3 separate regions of the Homo sapiens genome follow, and regions 1 and 2 are each linked to region 3. The links come from fine-mapping of genetic effects on gene expression. A gene starts in region 3. Each other region holds a variant in brackets. All regions are shown on one strand. Distances are from middle to middle.

The links. PIP is the estimated chance that this variant, and not a neighbour inherited with it, causes the effect. A credible set is the group of variants that fine-mapping cannot tell apart.
Region 1: its variant is the best candidate, but not a certain one, in a credible set for the expression of ODAD1 in prefrontal cortex (BrainSeq, PIP 0.74).
Region 2: its variant is the best candidate, but not a certain one, in a credible set for the expression of ODAD1 in nucleus accumbens (GTEx, PIP 0.54).

What each region holds. Positions count from the first base shown.
Region 1 is chr19:48,290,144-48,296,375 of GRCh38, forward strand. No RefSeq gene overlaps it. Among named protein-coding and RNA genes, the nearest start is that of ZNF114-AS1, 21 kb to the left of the region's middle. RefSeq lists enhancers at 994-1,043, 1,064-1,113, 1,231-1,879, 5,159-5,660, 5,661-6,160. The variant T/C (reference allele first, on the strand shown) is at 3,241.
Region 2 is chr19:48,341,161-48,347,634 of GRCh38, forward strand. TMEM143 (transmembrane protein 143) reads right to left here. Exons shown (of 8, transcript NM_018273.4): 4 at 4,000-4,194; 5 at 2,161-2,291; 6 at 1,370-1,649. Among named protein-coding and RNA genes, the nearest start is that of EMP3, 19 kb to the left of the region's middle. RefSeq lists enhancers at 997-1,497, 1,498-1,998. The variant G/A (reference allele first, on the strand shown) is at 3,381.
Region 3 is chr19:48,320,059-48,325,934 of GRCh38, forward strand. It overlaps ODAD1 (outer dynein arm docking complex subunit 1), which reads right to left and starts at 1,913. Exons shown (of 16, transcript NM_001364171.2): 1 at 1,620-1,913; 2 at 714-753; 3 at 241-333. The coding sequence starts at 310. It overlaps LOC124904735 (a long non-coding RNA gene), which reads left to right and starts at 1,410. Exons shown (of 2, transcript XR_007067284.1): 1 at 1,410-1,919; 2 at 2,732-3,464. EMP3 (epithelial membrane protein 3 (MAM blood group)) reads left to right here and starts at 5,494. Exons shown (of 5, transcript NM_001425.3): 1 at 5,494-5,552. RefSeq lists enhancers at 1-248, 1,528-1,767, 1,774-2,068, 2,288-2,347, 2,358-2,417 and 1 more and silencers at 1,298-1,417, 1,888-2,177, 4,509-4,740.

The DNA.
Region 1 (6,232 bases), 30 kb before region 3:
CATGGTGCAGACATCTGTAATCCCAGCTACTTGGGAGGCTGAGGCAGGAGAATCACTTGAACAAGGGAGGCAGCGGTTGCAGTGAGCTGAGACTGCGCCACTGCACTCCCGTCTGGGCGACGGAGCGAGATTTCGTCTCCAAAAAAAAAGGAAAAGAAAAGAGAAACGCCACTGGTAAGAGCAGAGGTCCTCCTAGGCGCGCATTCTGCATGGCCCCAGCACTGTTAAGTTCAGCTTTCAGTGTTTGGGGAAGACCTGCAGGTCAGGGACCCCCACTGTGGCTGAGGGGGCTCAAGCTTGGCCCTTTCTCCCGGACCCCTGCTGCCTGCGTTTCCCAGCAATCTGCTGCTTTATCCTAGAATCTGGGTGACTCATGGCCCTCCCCATCCTGGAAGGAATGAAGAGGAGGAGGGGAGGCTGCTATGCCAGGACAGTCCCAGACCTTGCCAAGGGGCCTGGGTCCACTCCCACCCCCAGGGAGCGCTGTGCGGAGGAAAAGGACCATGGCTGAAATCAGAATCCCTGGATTCAACCGGGGGTGGAGGGGGCCGGGGCGGGAGGGGGGAAACATCTGTAGCTGAGGGAACACCCCTCCCGCCTCCAGTCGCTGAGGCTGAACTTAGCCGACTTTGGGGATTCCCCACCCTCTACCCCCAACTGGTCCTCAATTCTCACAGATGTAAACTGAGAATTTTCAACAATCGTTTTGGCAAACATACGCCAGGCCCCCTTCTGAGCGCTTTGCACCTATTAACTCATGCAACGCCTGCAACGCTATGAAGTGGCTGCTGTTATCACTACCATTTTACAGTGGGGGGAACTGAGGCACAGCGAGGCCAAGCACGATGCCCAAGATCACACAGCCAGCAGGTGGCCGGGAGGGGCTCGACCCCGTGCTGTCAGGCACCAGAGACTCGGCTCTTCAGCCCCAGGCCAGAGCCTCCCTGCACTGACGGGGTCGCGAATTCGGGCAGGAGGGTTCGTGTGTGTCCTCACCTCTGGGACGCGAGCTCCGGGGACGGGGGACCTCGTCTGGCGTGGGAGGCATTTAGTGAGCGCCGTGGACTGAAGCCGGGACGGTCTTAGGAGAACCACTTCCCTTCTTGGCCGCCTGAAACCCCCTACAGGGTTCTGCTTCTGGAACTGCATTCGAGGTCAGAGTTTCTAGTACGAGTAAAGCGGATCCTCGGGAAGAGACCCGACCAGAAGGAAATCGCCGTCTTGGAAGATCTAAGTCCGGGATGGAACAAAACCCACTCCGGGCGGGGGGAGCGCGCCACCTGGCGGCGGATCCTGCTAAGGCAGCGCCGCCCGGAGACCAGAAACGTTGGATTTGGGCAGTGGGCCGAGGTGGTTGGAATTGGCGAATGGGCAGTTGTCTGAAAATCATTGTGTGAAACTAAGGACTGTCTACCAGTGGCTTCCAAAATTCTGACGCACAGTAAGAAATCATTTTGCGTCAGCATTTTTTTTTTTTTTTTTTTGAGACAAGGTCTTGCTCTGTTGCCCAGGTTGGAATGCAGTGGCACGATCTCGGCTCACTGCAAACTCCACTTCCAGGGTTCAAGCGATTCTCCTGCCTCAGCCTCCTGAGTAGCTGAGATTACAGGCGCCCGTCACCGCGCCTGGCTAATTTTTTATTTTTAGTAGAGATGGGGTTTTACAATGTTAGCCAGGCTGGTCTCGAATTCCTGGCCTCAAGTGATCTGCCCGCCTCGGCCTCCCAAAGTGCTGGGATTGCAGGCATGAGCCACCGTGCCTGGCCGCATCAGCATACTTTTACAAAAGAATACCACCCTCTATAGCCAACAACAATGGATTGTATACTTCAAAATAGCTAGAACATTTTGCATGTTTCACCGCAAAGAAATGGCAAGCATCTGGGATGATGGATTTGCTAATAACCTTGATTTGATCACTGCACAATTTATATATGTATCAAAACATCACGCCGCATCCTATAAATATGTACAATTAAAAACAAAATTTAGGCCGGCTGCAGTGGCTCATGCCTGTAATCCCAGCACTTTGGGAGGCCGAGGTGGGTGGATCACCAGGTCAGGAGTCCCAGACCAGTCTGGCCAAGATGGTGAAACCCCATCTCTACTTAAAAAAAAAAAAAAAAAAAAATTTGCTAGGTATGGTGGCGGGCACCTGTAATCCCAGCTACTAGGGAGGCTGAGGCAAAGAACTACTTTAACCCGGGAGGCAGAGGTTACAGTGAGCCGAGATCGCGCCACTGCACTCCAGCCTGGGTGACAGGGCGAGACTCCGTCTCAAAAAAAAGAAAATTTTAGTTTTAAAAATACCACCCTGTATTACACGGCCCTGTATTACACGATGCTTTATATTCCACTCTATTCCTTTTTTTTTTTTGAGACAGAGTGTCACTCTATCACCCAGGCATGATCTCGGCTCACTGCAACCTCTGTCCCCCAGGTTCAAGCAATCCTCCTGCCTCAGCCTCCCTCAGCCTCCTGAGTAGCTGGGATTACAGGCTCCCGCCATCATGCCCAGCTAATTTTTGCATTTTTAGTAAAGACGGGGTTTCACCATGTTGGCCAGGCTGGTCTCGAACTCCTGTCCTCAGGTGATCCGCCTGCCTCAGCCCCCCAAGGTGCTGTGATTACAGGCATGAGCCACCAGGCCCGGCCTATTCCTATTTTTAAATGCTGGTCAGGTCACCTTAAAATGGTTTCCTGACTCTCTAAGGGTCTGGGATAGGGTTTTCCACTGTTCTAGATTATCCCCATGTTTTTTCACTTGACAGAGATTATGATGAGGAACCGGTTACACCCACGCTACCTCCCAGTGAGCCTTCCCCACCACACAAAGCTGCCTCCAGGATTCGCTGCCAGCTCTGATGTCAGGATGAGTAACAGCTCAGGATGCTGAAGACACTGGCCCAAGACCACACAGCCTGGATGTGGCAGTGCCTGTTTCTGCCTCACTCCTGGAGGAGGAAAATGATTAAATACCCGTAATTTCACTGCTATTGAGTACAATTTAATTCATCCTTCCTCCACTTTGGCTGATAAGATTGAGCTGCACTCACCTGCTGTTCTCTTAGGCTGTAGCATAAGGCATTCCAGAGGTCAAACTTTAAAATGTCTTTTTCACTTTGGGAGGCCAAGGCGGGAGGATCACTGGAGGCCAGGAGTTCGAGACCAGCCTGGCCAACATGGTGAAACCTCCATCTCTACAAAAAATACAAAAATTAGCCGGGCGTGGTGGCACACA[T/C]CTGTAGTCCCAGCTGCTCAGGAGGCTGAGGCATGAGAATCACTTGAACCTGGGAGGTGGAGGCTGGAGTGAGCCAAGATTGCACCACTGCACTCCAGCCTGGGCAACAGAGCAAGACCCTGTCTCAAAAAAATAAAAAATCAAAAATCTAGGTTGAATTCTCAGGTGTCTCTAAAGTGGCCTTCGATGTATTCTGCGCTGGGTGCTGCAGGGTTGACCATCTAAAAGTGGCGAGCCCAGCCCCAGTCCAGGGGAAGGTAGAGGAAGTGAACCTGCTCATTGTAGGACTAGGACCCTTGAGGTGACAGAGAGCTGTGGTTAGCCTGAGTCCATCGCACTGTGGTGGTCTATGAGGCCGCTTTGCAGGGGCAGCAAATCAGAAGGCTCGGTCTGCTGTGCTTACTCTGCTATCTTTGGAAGGAAAGAGGAGGAAATCGCTCCGAAATGGGAGATAGGGCTGGTGGTCACGACTCAGCTCCACACCAAGATGAGACTTCCTGGGCCCCCAGGGAGGAAGAATAGCAGTTCCACTGCCAGGAGCCACGCCTCAGAGGAGCTGCCTTTCCACCTCCCTCCTGAAATGCCATTTTCAAATTTCTCCTTTACTCTTCCATCCCCAGAACCTAGTACAATATATGGCACATAGTACATGCTCAATAAATATTTATCAAATTAATGAGAAAAGATATGTGGATGTCCCCTCCTGTGCAGCTGTAAGGGGAGAAATAGAGTTCTTTTTTTTTTTTTTTAACTTTCCTACACCAGTTTTATTTAAAACACAAAAATAAGTATTTCTCTTTCTGTAAGGAAAAATGGCTCAAATATTGCTGAACACAGGCCAGACTCAGTGGCTCACGCCTGTATTCCCAGCACTTTGGGAGGTCGAGGTAGGAGCACACTTGAGGTCAGGGGTTCGAGACCAGCCTGGCCAACACGGTGAAACCCCCATCTCAAATACAAAAAAAAAAAATTAGCCAGGCATGGTGGCAGGTGCCTGTAATCCCAGCTACTTGGGAGGCTGAGGCAGGAGAACTGCTTGAACCCAGGAGGCGGAGATTGCAGTGAGCTGAGATTGTGCCACTGCACTCCAGCCTGGGCGACAGAGCGAGACTCCGTCTCAAAAATAAATAAATAAATAAATAAATAGAAAGAAAACACTACACTCCTTTCCATCTTTATCGCTGTCCTGCTAATAGTCACATGTAGTTCTGAGCATTTACTACTTGCCAGGTACTGTTCTGAGGCTTTCTGTGTATCAGTTCATTTTATTCTCACACAAACAAGTATGTACTATTATCAAGCCATTTTATTTATTAATTTATTTATTTTCTGAGATACAGCTTCACTCTTGTCTCCCAGGCTGGAGTGCAGTGTCATGGTCTCGGCTCCCTGCAACCTCCGCCTCCCAGGTTCAAGAGATTCTCCTGCCTCAGCCTCCGGAATAGGTGAGATTATAGGCATGTGCCACCACACCCGACTAATTTTTGTATTTTTAGTAGAGACGGGGTTTCACCATGTTGGCCAGGCTGATCTTGAACTCCTGACCTCAGGTGATCCGCCAACCTTGGCCTCCCAAAGTGCTGGGATTACAGGCGTGAGCCACCACGCCCAGCCACTGTTCTAAGGCTTTGTGTATAAATTCATCTTATTCTCACACAAAAAAGTATGCACTATGATCAAGCCATTTTAAGGGGAGGCTCAGGGTGCTACCTGGATTAGGAAGGTGGATGATAGATTATCTGTTTGGATTTGAACTTTTTTTTTTTTTTGAGACACTCTCACTCTATTAACCAGGCTGGAGTGCAGTACCATGATCTCGGCTCACTGCAACCTCCGCTTCCCAGATTCAAGCAATTCTTGTGCCTCAGCCTCCCGAGTAGTTGGGAAGACAGGTGCACATCACCATGCTCTGCTAATTTTTGTATTTTTAGTCGAGACAGGGTTTCGCATGTTCACCAGGCTGGTCTTGAACTCCTGGGCTCAAGTGATCCACCCACCTCGGCCTCCCAAAGTGCTGGGATTACAGGCGTGAGCCACCACGCCCAGCCTGAATTTTTAGAAGTTTTTATATAGCTTTGATACCAATGGATTAAATTTTGACAGGGCATTTGGCATGACTCAACTACAGGAAAGAGTTATCAAGGTGTTCTAAGCCCTCTCACTCCTACACCCACCCCCGCTGCAGGAAAGGGCCAAAGTCAGCTTTTTCTCTGTGACCCTGTGGCTGGAGTTAGGGCTGTCCATAAATAATCCTTCCTTTCTCTCCTTCCAGGCACATGAAAAGACTGCGCTTCCCGGCGACCCTTTGAAGTTCGGCGTAACCTGCTGACCCGCTCTGGCTGAGTGTGAGCTAAGAGGACAGGTGTCATATCAGGTCCAAGCCTCGAGAGTCACTGCCTGCTGTGCCATCCTCTCTTCTTCCCGTGCCAAAGGACTGGCAGCACTCCAGTGATGGCTGTGCCATGGGCCCGGGGTACACGAGTGATATGGAGCGGAGCGCTCAGCTGGCCCACAAAGGAGAGAAAACTCTGCTGCCTGAGGACCACAGAGAATCTGCAGCTGTGACTGCAGCACAGCCCAGCCTGCCCTGACCAACATAGCTCCAAGAGAGCCAGACACGTGGATCTCAGAGAAATGGATGAATAGGCTGGGTGCGGTGGCTCACGCCTGTAATCCCAGCATTTTGGGAGGCTGAGGTGGGCAGATCACCTGAGGTCAGGAGTTCAAGACCAGCCTGGCCAACATGGTGAAACCCCATCTCGACTAAAAATACAAAAATTAGCCGGGCGTGGTAGTGGGCACCTGTAATCCCAGCTACTCGGGAGGCTGAGGCAGGAGAATCACTTGAACCCAGGAGGCGGAGGTTGCAGTGAGCCGAGAACGTGACACTGTACTCCAGCCTGGGCAACAAGAGGGAAACTTCATCTCAATAAATAAATAAATAAATAAATAAATAAATAAGAACGCTGAATGAGTGAGTGAATGAATGAAT
Region 2 (6,474 bases), 21 kb after region 3:
ACTCCTGGGGCCGGTGCCAACCCTGGGAAGAATCAGTAAAAGGCAGCTCCCCTCTGGGCTGACTCAGCCTCGAGACAGGACACGCATTTTGGCAAGCGGAGCACAAGTTGGGTGTCAGCCTCCACCTGGCCCCTGGGCCACGAATCCTTGGATGGTGAACAACCTGTGCAACTGTTCAAGGCAGCCCGGCACTCACATGTAGCAGAATCAAAAGGGAGCTTGTTAAAAATATAGTTCCCTGGGCCCCAGTCCCAGAGTTTCCAATTCAGTCCACTAGGACTGGAGCCCAGGAGGCTGCATTTGTCAGCCAGCTCCCCCAGTGATAATGATACCCAGTCAGGATGGGGACTTGGAACAAACAGCCCAATTAGTAATGATAATAATCATCATCCTGGTAATAGCTAACTCTCACATAGCACCTCCTGTGCCATGTGGGAGGCTCTATTCTCAGCACTGTGCATGTTAATTCATTTAATCCCCACAACACCTCTATGAGTTAGGTCCCACCATCATCCCTACTTTGCAGATTTTGAAGCTGAGACACAGAGAGGTTAAGCAACTTGTTCAAGATCACACAGCGAGAAGAGAGTAGAGTCAGATTCAAATCCAGGAAGTCTGCTTCCAGAACACACCCCCTTCACCGCATCACTAAAGCGCCCCTAAAGCCGGCACTCAGTGAGCGGCTGTCAACCCTTATGTAGCCCCTACCACGAGCCGAGCACTGCCCAGTGCTTCTCACAGACTCACTCATTTCATGCTCACAACCCTACAAGGCAGATCTCGCTATCATCCCCATTTTCCAGATGAGAAAACTGAGGCTCAGAGAGATTAAGAAACCCCCCTAAGGGGTGTTGAGTAAATGAAGTAGGGAAGGGAAGGGGAAGGGAGGGGAGCGGAGGAGAGGGCAAGAAGGGAGGGAAGGGAGAAAGGGAAGGGGGGAGGAAGGAGGTGGGGAGAGGGAGGGAAGGGAAGGAAAAGAGGAACAGGAAGGAAGGGAGGGAGGGAGGGGAAGGGGAGGGGAGGGGAGAGGAGGGGAGGCGGAAGGAAGGGGAAGAAGGAAGGGAAGGGAAAGGGGAAAAGGAAGGGGAGGAGAGAGAGGGAGAAAGGAAAGAAGGGAGGAAGGGAGGGAGGAAGGAAGGAAGGACAGGGAGGGAAGGGAAGGGAAAGAAAAGAGGAAGAATGGGAAGGAAGGAAGGACAGGGAGGGAAGGGAAGGGAAAGAAAAGAGGAAGAATGGGAAGGAAGGAAGGGAGGGAGGGAGGGAGGAGAGCATGACGCAGGAACAATGCATGAAACAGAGACAACTACAGGGGGCCTGACCTGGTCCCCACAGCGCAGGGCCGCAGGAGGCGTGGCAGGCGCATGCTCACCTTGGAGGCCCGCAGGCCCATGAAGATGGCGAAGAGCAGCAGCAGCAGGGAGGTGGCCACCTTGAGGTCGGTTAGCACCACCATGCCCACGTTGACGAAGATCGCCACGCCGGAGACTACCAGCATGAGGTTGAGCAGGGCGCGCTGCAGGGTGGGCGTGCGCACCTTCAGCTCCGGCAGCAGCTGCTCCAGGCCTTCCAGCGGCGTGTCCTTGAAACTCTTCAGTACCAGGTGTCCCCGTTTGGTCCGGGCTGCCAGGACCACCCGCTTAAAGTATCTCCTGAGGGACAGAGACAGAGGCAGGAGCAGGATCGGGACTGCACTGCCCGGGGAGCCCCCTCCAATCCTAGGACGCTCACTCTGGCTCTACAGTCGCACAACCATCTTAAAAGCGACTCAGTAATCATGGGGAAGAAACCAGGGATCAGCTGTGTCCAACCACAGGGGATCGGTTCAATCGCGCCATCGATCCCTGGTATTGGACGTGCAGATTGTTTGTTGGAATCCTGGCCGTGCCGCATCTTCAGAATGTGGACCTCCCTCTCCGAGCCTCAGTTTTCCTTATTGGAAAATGGGGAGAACTGTCCCCATCCTTTCTCTTCCCCTGGGAATCAAGTGTAGTACTCACTTTCCCTTGAGAAGAAAAGACAGCATTTGGATGAGTCACGCCTCCCATTTCTCAACTTCCCGCCTGGGGCCCAGACACCCAAACCAGACACTGACCTGTCAGTCCCCTCTTGACTCTAACCTTGCTCCCTCTTGCTGCAGCTGGGGAACAAGGGCCGCCTCACCTCTCCGCAGGGGGCAGCTTGGTGAAGAAGCCACGCCTGGAGCCCACGCTGGACTTCAGGGGCATCTGCCCGACTCGCTGGCCCAGGGCCCAGAAGTGAATGTAGACATACTGATCCAAATTTACTGTCACCTGCCGGGGGGATGAAGGAAGCAGTGGCGGGTGAACATGGGCAGGAGTGTTGAGGGCAGGATACCAGAATCAGATGTCCTGCCCCTAAATAATTCCCCCGTTTCCCACTTATCCCCATTCACCATCTAGGCAGGGCTGTCACATATGGTTGTCCATGTCGTATACTGCACAAGGGCTCATGATCTAACACAGTGCCATTCACGTAGAAGTCATCTTTACCATATTTCCTAGAATCTAAGGTGCCACTGACTCTACCTGATTATTTTATGAAGCAACTAAAAACAAAATACGTTGCCAATTAAATGATGTCACACCACCACCTGTAAATTACATCCCAATTTCAGAGATGACAAAACATGACTTTGGAAAAACTGCAGTTTAAAATCACTAAAATGTGGAATTTGGGGAGATTTTAGTATTTTTTATTTCTGTTTTTATTTTTATTTCTATTTTGAGATATTGTCTCACTCTGTCACCCAGGCGGGAGTGCAGTGGCACAATCTCAGCTCACTGCAGCCTCCACCTCCTGGGTCCAAGTGATTCTCGTGCCTCAGCCTCCCAAGTAGCTGGGACTACAGGCACCCGCCACCATGCCTGGCTAATTTTTGTATTTTTAGTAGAGATGGGGTTTCACCATGTTGGCCAGGCTAGTCTCAAACTCCTGACCTCAAATGATCTGCCTACCTCAGCCTCCCAAAGCACTGGGATTATAGGTGTGAGCCACTGCACCCAGCTGATTTTAGTATTTCTTATAATTTTGTTAGCATTTTGCGTGCTTTTAGGGGCTTGGTTTTTTTTTTCTTTTTTAATGTGTCTCTCTGTGTGTGTGTGTTTTGTTTTGTTTTTTTGAGACAGGTTCTCAATTTGTCATCCAGGCTGGAGTGCAGTGGCAAGATCATGGCTGACAGCTCACTGCAGCCTTAAACTCCTGGGATCAAATGATCCTCCCACCTCAGCCTCCCGAGTAGCTGGGACTGCAGGCCCGCACCACCATATCCAACTAATTTTTGTATTTTCTGTAGAGACGGGGTCTCCCTGTGTCGCCTAGATGAGTCCGGAACTCCTGGGCTCGAGCGATCCTCCTGCCTC[G/A]GCCTCCTGAATGCTGGGATTACAGGAATGAGCCACTGAACCCGGCCTTGTATTATATTATTTATTATTACAATTTTGGCAGATGGTGCTAAGTCTCTTGCCCTAAGAGAGCCATATCATATGATACTTTTCCAACAGATGGCAGTGAAGTGACCTGAGACAGCAGCACCTCCTTTTTTTTTCCAGATGGAGTTTCACTCTTGTTGCCCAGGCTGGAGTGCAATGGCACGATCTCAGCTCACTGCAACTTCCACCTCCCGGGTTCAAGAGATTCTCCTGCCTTAGCCTCCCCAGTAGCTGGGATTACAGGCACCTGCCACCATGCCTGGATAATTTTTTATATTTTTAGTAGAGATGGGGTTTCACCATGTTGGCCAGGCTGGTCTTGAACTCTTGACCTCAGGTGATCCACCCACCTTGGACCCCCAAACTGCTGGGATTACAGGCTTGAGCCACTGCATCCAGCCAAAAGTAGCCCCTTCTCTGAGTTCACCAAGTGCGCCATATGGGCCACAGTCCCAGGCTCAGGACTACAACTCCCAGCAGCCCATGCCTCTCAGAGGCTCTGCCCCACCCTAGAGGCCTCCTGGGAGTTTTGTTCTCCTAGGGAGCCAAGTACCTGGACCTCATCCTGAGGGTGGTGGACCACCAGCGCGTAGGCCAGGGTGTCCTCAGACAGCGGGGAGAAGTTGGCCTGGGCCAGCAGGGGCTCCAGAGCCCGAAGCACCTCCTGCTCATTAGACAGACGCTGGGGATCCGTTAGTGATGGCTGATCGAGGGTCTCCCTGTCAGGGTTGATGGGGTCATATAAGGCCTAAGAGGAGAGTCAGAGAGAAAAAGATGGGATAGGTCTCTGCATGAAGGATTCTAGGGACATCTAAGGACATCCCTCTCCAGATACTTTCATTTATTTATTTATTTATTTATTTATTTTATTGAGATAGAGTCTCGCTCTGTTGCCAGGCTGGAGTGCAGTGTCACGTTCTCCGCTCACTGCAACCTCCACCTCCCGGGTTCAAGCAATTCTCCTGCCTCAGCCTCCCAAGTAGCTGGGACTACAGGCGCACGCCACCATGCCCGGGTAATATATATATATATTTTTTGTATTTTAATAGAGATGAGGTTTCACTGTGTTGCCCAGGCTGGTCTTGAACTCCTGAGCTCAGGCAATATGCCCGCCTCGGCCTCCCAAAGTGCTAAGATTACAGGCATAAGCCACCGTGCCCGGCCTGTGTTTTTTTGTGTTTTGTTTTTGTTTTTTTGAGACGGAGTCTCGCTCTGTCGCCCAGGCTGGAGTGCAGTGGCACAATCTCAGCTCACTGCAACCTCCACCTCCTGGGTTCAAGCGATTCTCCTGTCTCAGCCTCCTGAGTAGCTGGGATTACAGATGCACGCCACCATGCCCGGTTAATTTTTGTATTTTTAGTAGAGAAGGGGTTTCACCATGTTGGTCAGGCTGGTCTCGAACTCCTGACATGTGATCTACCCACCTCGGCCTCCCAAAGTGCTGGGATTACAGGCATGAGCCACCTTGCTCAGCCCTTTTTTCTTTTTCTTTCTCTTTTTTTTGAGATGGAGTCTCGCTCTGTCACCCAGGCTGGAGTACAGTGGTGCAATCTCAGCTCACTGCAACCTCCACCTCCCAGGTTCAAGCAGTTCTCCTGCCTCAGCCTCCTGAGTAGCTGGGATTACAGACACATGCCACCACATTCAGCTAATTTTTATATTTTTAGTGGAGATGGGGTTTCACTATGTTGGCCAGGCTGGACTCGAATTCCTGACCTCAAGTGATGCAACCACCTCGGCCTCCCAAAGTGAGATTACAGACATGAGCCACTGTGCCCAGCAGATTCTTTTCTTATCACACCCATATCCAATCCTCTGGCAAGTTCACTTGCTAAACCCCTGAATCTTCTTGAATCCACCCTCCTCTCTATCTCCTTTGCTGCTATCTTCTCACTGAAGCCACCTTCATCTCTCACTTAAACAATTATGTAGGGCTTCTGTTCCCCAACTTTTACTCTTACTACTTTCTTTTTATTTATTTATTTTTTTGAGACAGAGTCTCACTCTGTTGCCCAGGGTGGAGTGCAATGGCATGATCTCAGCTCACTGCAATCTCCACCTCCTAGGTTTAAGTGATTCTCCTGCCTCAGCCTCCCGAGTAGCTGGGACTACAGGTGCCCACCACCACGCCTGGCTAATTTTTGTATTTTTAGTGGAGATGAGGTTTCACCATGTTGGCCAGGCTGGTCTCGAACTCCTGACCTCAAGCGATCCCCCCACCTCAGTCTCCCAAAGTGGTGGGATTACAGGCGTGAGCCATCGCACCTGGCCTACTCTTGCTACTTTTCAACCAGTATCCACATGGCCATTGGGAAGAACTTACTGAGGCTGTAAACAGCTCCCACAATCCACCCCTCCAACAGCTTCCCACTGTATTTAGAATAAAATCTAGAAGCTTTCCGTGATGTTCAAGTTCCCTCACAAACTGGCATCTAACCTGCCTGCCTCATCTTATGTCCCTAAACGTCCCCCCTAAAAAACTCTTGGAATGAATGTCGCGTGAGTTTCCAGTTGCCTAGCCTATTTTGCTCACGGAGAGACTGAGTCTCAGGATGACATATAACTTGTCCCAGACTCTACAACAGCCTCCAAGGAAATCACCCCTCTATAAAACCAGATCATAAACCTAACCCTCCATGTGTCTCTTGGGAGCAGGGGTCCTATGAAGCAGCTTGTTCAGGCCAGGTGCGATTCTGAATTAGTGGAAGGAGAGAGGGCCGGTTCTCCAAGTGGGAGGAATGGCCTAAGTGAAGGTTTGGTCATGGGGAAGCCCAGGGCCTCAGAAACAACTGAGCAAGGAGACTGGGATGCAGAAGAGATTCAAAGGCCGGCACAGTGGCTCACGCCTGTAATCCCAACACTCTGGGAAGCCAAGGTGGGAGGATCACTTGAATCCAGGAGTTTGAGACCAGCCTTGGCAACACGGTGAAATCCTGTCTCTACAAAACTTTTTTTTTTTTTTTTTTTTGAGACAGAGTCTCGCTCTGTTGCCCAGGCGGCAGTGCAGTGGCATGATCCCAGCTTACTG
Region 3 (5,876 bases):
CTACAGGGAGTTCTGGGCCCCACTCAAACTTCTGCTGCCTGAAGTCTCCAGCCTGCCCCACTGCCCAGGCTTGGCCCACCCACCGTGGTGCCCGCCCCGCCTCCCTTAGGGCGCATGTCTGTTCCCACCAGAGGGCGCTCCTGGACAGACACTCTCCCTCCCTCCCTACAGGACCTGGAACTTGGGAAAGCTGGGGGCTGGAAAAGAATGGGTGAATGATATAAAGAATGAATGAATTACCCATTCCCTCCAGAAATGCCTCGCTTCCCTCCTCGGAGCGGGCGCTCCCTGCCAAGCGTCCCAAAGGCATCCTGGCCAAACAGGGTGGGGCTCCTGTAGGGATGGACATATAAGACCCTTCAGACAGCAGGCGGGCCAGGGCCCAGAGAGGGTGGACAATGAACTGCGAGGGACTGGGAATTGAAAGGGGGTGACCCTAGAACCACGCTGGCCTCATTCCTCCAAGAGGGGTTGGAGGGGGACCTCTCTCAGGCCTCTCCCACACCTCTCCAGCCCTCCCACCTCTCACACTCTGGGTCTTGCGTCTAGGCTCCGATTCTGGCGCGGGTTTGGCAGGGGACAGGCCTCCTGGGCTCTCAGGATATCTGAGGCCAGGCTGTTTGGTCGCAGGAGAGGGGGAAACCCCGGCCTGCTGTAGTGGGGGTTGGGCAGGGTCGGGGGAGTCCTGGGCCCTACCTGCCGACGGGCCTGACCTGTTCTTGGTGCTCCAAGTTCAGTGTTGTGGTCTGGTTACTGGGGAGATAAGGGACCAATGAGGACTGAGGACAGCGGCCAGGGAGGGACTGAGGCCGCGGGAGAAACTATGGGAGGAGGGGCGGAGAAGGATGCGAGGCGTAGACCTGCAGGGTTCCCACGGACTGAGAACTGATGGGCAAGGCCAGGCGCGGTGGCTCACGCCTGCAATCCCAGCATTTTGGGAGGCCGAGGCGGGCGCATCACTTGAGGTCACGAGTTCGAGACCAACCTGGCCAACATGGTGAAACCCCGTCTCTACTAAAAGTACAAAAAATTAGCCGGACATGGCGGCTCGTGCCTGTAATCCCAGCTACTCAGGAGGCTGGGGCAGGAGAATCGCTTGAACCCGGGAGGCGGAGGTTGCAGTGAGCCGAGATCCCGCCACTGCACTCCAGCCTGGGCGACAGAGCGAGACTCCGTCTCAAAAAACAAACAAACAAACAAACAAAACTGATGGGCGGCGAGGTCCTGAAAGGGGCGGAGCCGGGAGGGCCTGTGGAGCGGTGCTGCGGAGCCCTGAGAGGTGCACGGCTGTGAGGCCTGAGAGGGGCGTGCCGTAGGGAGCTGTGATGGGCGGGGCTGAGACCTGTGAGGAGAGTGAGTGGGAAGAACTTCGAGGGGCGGGGCTTCGGGGCCGGCGAGGGGAGGGGCACGGACACCAGTACAGGACGGGGCTTCGCAGACAGCGAGCGGAGGGGCTTCCCCGTAAGGGGCGGGCTTCGAGGGTCGCGTTTGGAAGGCCTTACGAGGGGCCCGGTGGAAGGGCGGTGAAGGGCGGGCTAATCGGGAGGCGCTCAGGCCTTGAAGGCCTGCGGGAGGTCGAAATGGTCCTGGGGAGGTCGAGGCTGAGGTCTCACTAGTACCGCGGGCCTGGAAGCGGCGGGAGTTGAAAGAGCCTGCGGTGACCTGTATGGAAGCCCTCGAAGCCAGGCCGAGGTCCTACAAGACGGAGCCCGAGAGGTGCCGGTCTTAAGCTGACTGTGACCACGTTAAATTAAGGATTCATAGGAAGGAAGGCGGTGTCGAAGCCGGGAGTTGCGCGGAGAAGGAGCGCTCAACACAGCCTCAGCGGTTCACTACGCAAGCGCGACCAACGGCTTCCCGGGAAGCAGCCAAAAACGCTTGGCCGCCTACCACGTCCGCGCGCTGGAGGGCGGAAGTGGGTGAGACCTCGGGCACTCCATACCGCCCCCCGGTTTCTGGCCACGCCCCCTCTGGTTACACCCACTCGCTCTGTAAGGCACGCCCCCTCCGCGGCGGCGGCTGCTGCCCACGTGGGCCTCCCCGGGCGGGCGGGCAGTGGGCGCCTCTCCCTGCAGGCTGGGTGTGCCCGAAGCCTGCGGTTTCCTGTGGGAGGAAGCGGCCTGCGTACGCTCAGCTCAGCTCATAATCTCGGAGGCCCAGGATGGGGAGATCCCGCCGCCACCCTCAGATCCTTTGATTCTTCCCCTTCTACATAGCCATAGTGCGGGGACCCCCCTAATATCCCCAGGGTACCCAAGCCTGGCGCCGATCCCACTCAGGGAACTTGATTCTGAGTCCTAGACTCGTGTTTTTCACCTCCCCGGCTCAAGTTTCCATCTTCCTAGCCCCTGGCTCCCCCTAGTCCTCTCAAGAAAGTGGAGCCCTCTTTTCCTGCTCCCCAAGAGGAACGTATGTCTCCCCAGCCCCTAATTTTTCCTTCAGTGACCCAGACTTTGCAACTTCCTTAGGGATCTGAGTGCGGACCCCAGTTTCTGTCTCTCAGGCACTTAAGTTTGAGACTACTTATTCTCCCCCAGGGACCCTCATTTTGGATTCCCAACTTTAGCCTTGAGACCCAATGGACCCAAGAATTTGCCCCTTCCCCAACTCCTAGAGATCCTGAATCAGGGTCCCCCAGTACTGACTCCACTCAGAGCCCCAATGCCTGATATGACTAGCACTACCCTAAGAACTGCCCTATAATGTATTTACTATTATCTCTATTTTTCAGATGAAGAGACTGAGGCATAGAGAAGTTATTAGTAACTTGCCAAAAATTACACAGCCATTGAGTAAAACAGCTTGGATTTTGAGTCCAACCAGTGTGGCTCTAGAGTCTGTGCTATACTGGTATTCCAGCTTCCAGGTCTTGGGGTACCCAGCCAAGCACTGAACTGTCCATCCCTCACCCCCTCAGGGAGCCCGAATCACCAACAGCTATCCCAAACCCAGCTCTGGCCCATCAGATACCCAGACATCCCATCATCCAGTTCCCTTCCCTGGATCCAGGATTTGAATTCCCCTGCTCTCAATTTATCAGAGTTCTGGGCACCTGGTCCCCTCCCAAGAGACTCGTGTACATAGTAGTCATCACCCCGACCCTAATTTAATATCCCCAAAATTAATAATAATAGTTAACAGTAAACCTTTGGGGCCAGGCACAGTGTCTTACGCCTGTAATCCCATCATTTTGGGAGGCCAAGGCAGGCAGATCACTGGAGGTCAGGAGTTCGAGGCCAGCCTGGCCAACATGGAGAAACCCCCGTCTCTACTAAAAATACAAAAATTGGCTGGGCGTGGTGGCGGGCACCTGTAATCCCAGCTACTCAGGAGGCTGAGGCAGGAGAATCGCTTGAACCGGGAGGTGGAGGTTGCAGTGAGCTGAGATCATGCCACTGCACTCCAGCCTGGATGACAGAGCAAGACTCCATCTCAAAAAAAAAATAAAAATCTTTGGTACTACACTCTGTTAAAACCTAATGGCTTTCCACTGCACTTAGAATGAAATCCAAGCCCCTCCCCTAGTCTTCAAGGGCACCCTTTGATTTCCCTTCTCACCACTCCCTCTGTCTCCCTGTGCTCCAGCCACACTGGCCCTTCTGTCTGCTCCCTAAACAACCTGAGCTTGTTCTCAAAAGCTTTAAGAGCTTTTGCACTTCCTCTCCCCCCGACGCCCCCCCACCACTCCCCAACCCCAGCGTTCAAATGACTCCTGTCTTCAGCTCAAATGTTACCTCCTCCAAGAGGCCTTCCCTGATTTTCCTGTTTCAAGTAGTCTTCCCTGCACTCTGTCATTATCTCCATCACTCTGTTTGATTTATTATTGTATTTATTTTTCTTTTCTTCTTTTATTTTTTTTTTTCTTTAAGATGGAGTCTTGCTCTGTCACCCAGGATGGAGTGCAGTAGCGTGATTTCAGCTTACTGCAACCTCCGCCTCCCGGGTTCAAGCAATTCTCCTGTCTCAGCCTCCTGAGTAGCTGGGTTACAGGCGCCCACTACCATGCCTGGCTAATTTTTGTATTTTTAGTAGAGACAGGGTTTCACCATGTTGGCCAGGCTGGTCTTGAACTCTCGACCTCAGGTGATCCTCCAGCCTTGGCCTCCCAAAGTGCTGAGATTACAGGCATGAGCCACCACGTCCAGCCTATTGTATTTATTTTTCAAGTCACTTATCCTTATCTGAGATTTATCTTCATCATTGATGTTTTCTCTTGTCTGTCTTCCTCTACTAGAATACAAGCTCCATAATACCAGCAGGGCTCATGTCTGTTTTCATTATTAACTCCCAGATCAGAGTACATGTTCAATAAATGTTTGATGAAGGAAGGAACAGGTTAGGTGTGTGAGTGTGCCAGTATTACCTTATTCATTCAGCATAAGTATCAGAATTATTATTATCAGTATTAGTATTTTGTCAGCATTATTATACTCTCAACATAGACTAAGATACTGGAGCCCAGGTGGGTGAAATAATTGGCTCAAGGTCACTGAACCAGGAAATGATGGCGCTGGGATTCTTAGCTTCCGCTTCCTCCCCGCTTCCAGAGTTTCACAAGGTTTTTTTTTTTGTTTGTTTGTTTTTTGTTTTGTTTTGTTTTTTTTTTGCGACAGAATCTCACTTTGTCCCCCAGGTTGGAAGGCAGTGGTGCAAACTCAACTCACTGCAGCCTCCACCTCTCGCGTTCAAGCGATTCTCATGGCTCAGCCTCCCAAGTAGCTGGGATTACAGTCGCCCGCCACCACGCCCGGCTAATTTTTGTATTTTTGATAGAGACGGGTTTCCACCATGTTGGCCAGGCTGGTCTCGAACTCCTGACCTCAGATGATCTGCCCGTCTCGGCCTCCCAAAGTGCTGGGATTACAGGCGTGAGCCACAACGCCCTGCCGAGTTTCACAAATTTCATCTCCCATCCTCTGACCCCCCACCACGGGGCCAACTTCACCAGCCCAATCTCAAGTCCATGCCACAGAAATCTGGCCTCTTTTCCCAGACTCCTATCCAGCTCCAAGCTCCATCAGGGAAAGCAGACATCCGGCCCCAGGGCAAGACCTCAAAACTCAAGGGTCCTGAGAATCGGGCCCTCCCACCCCTGACGCTTGCCCCCCCCAAGAACCCCATTCCAAGAGTTTCTCATCTCAACCCTGGGAGGGAGCCCCAGATGATGTCTGTCTGGAGGGATTGGGTGGGGGCCCAAAGAAAGAGGAACCGGAGTGCCTGGGCCCTCCCACTGGCAGCCGACCTCAGCTGGGTGCGGTGAGGGTGGGTTTATAAAAGGGTCAGTATATATTGAGAGGAGGAGAGAAAGAGAAACGGGAGCAAGAGAGAAGGAGGCCCAGACAGTGAGGGCAGGAGGGAGAGAAGAGACGCAGAAGGAGAGCGAGCGAGAGAGAAAGGGTTCTGGATTGGAGGGGAGAGCAAGGGAGGGAGGAAGGCGGTGAGAGAGGCGGGGGCCTCGGGAGGGTGAAAGGAGGGAGGAGAAGGGCGGGGCACGGAGGCCCGAGCGAGGGACAAGACTCCGACTCCAGCTCTGACTTTTTTCGCGGCTCTCGGTAAGTTTCCAGTCCGTTATTCAGGGCTGGGACTTCTTAATTTACTTGGGAATGTAGCAGTTTGGGAAGGACACCCCCAGGCTGGGAGAGACGTCCCTGACTCTTGGAAATCCTTTTAATTTAATAAGTGATCTCTTAGCACTTGAGGTGGGGATATGGGAAGGGGTGGGGCCCGGCAAAGTTTTGGGGTCCCAGCAGAGCCCTCCACTGGAAAACTTCCTGCAGTTTTTCCCTCAGCGGTGTCCACTGTCCTCTGGGGTCCCTGAGATCAGGGCATTGCATGAGAACACCCCAAATCTGGGAGACCTCTAGGTCCCCTGTTCC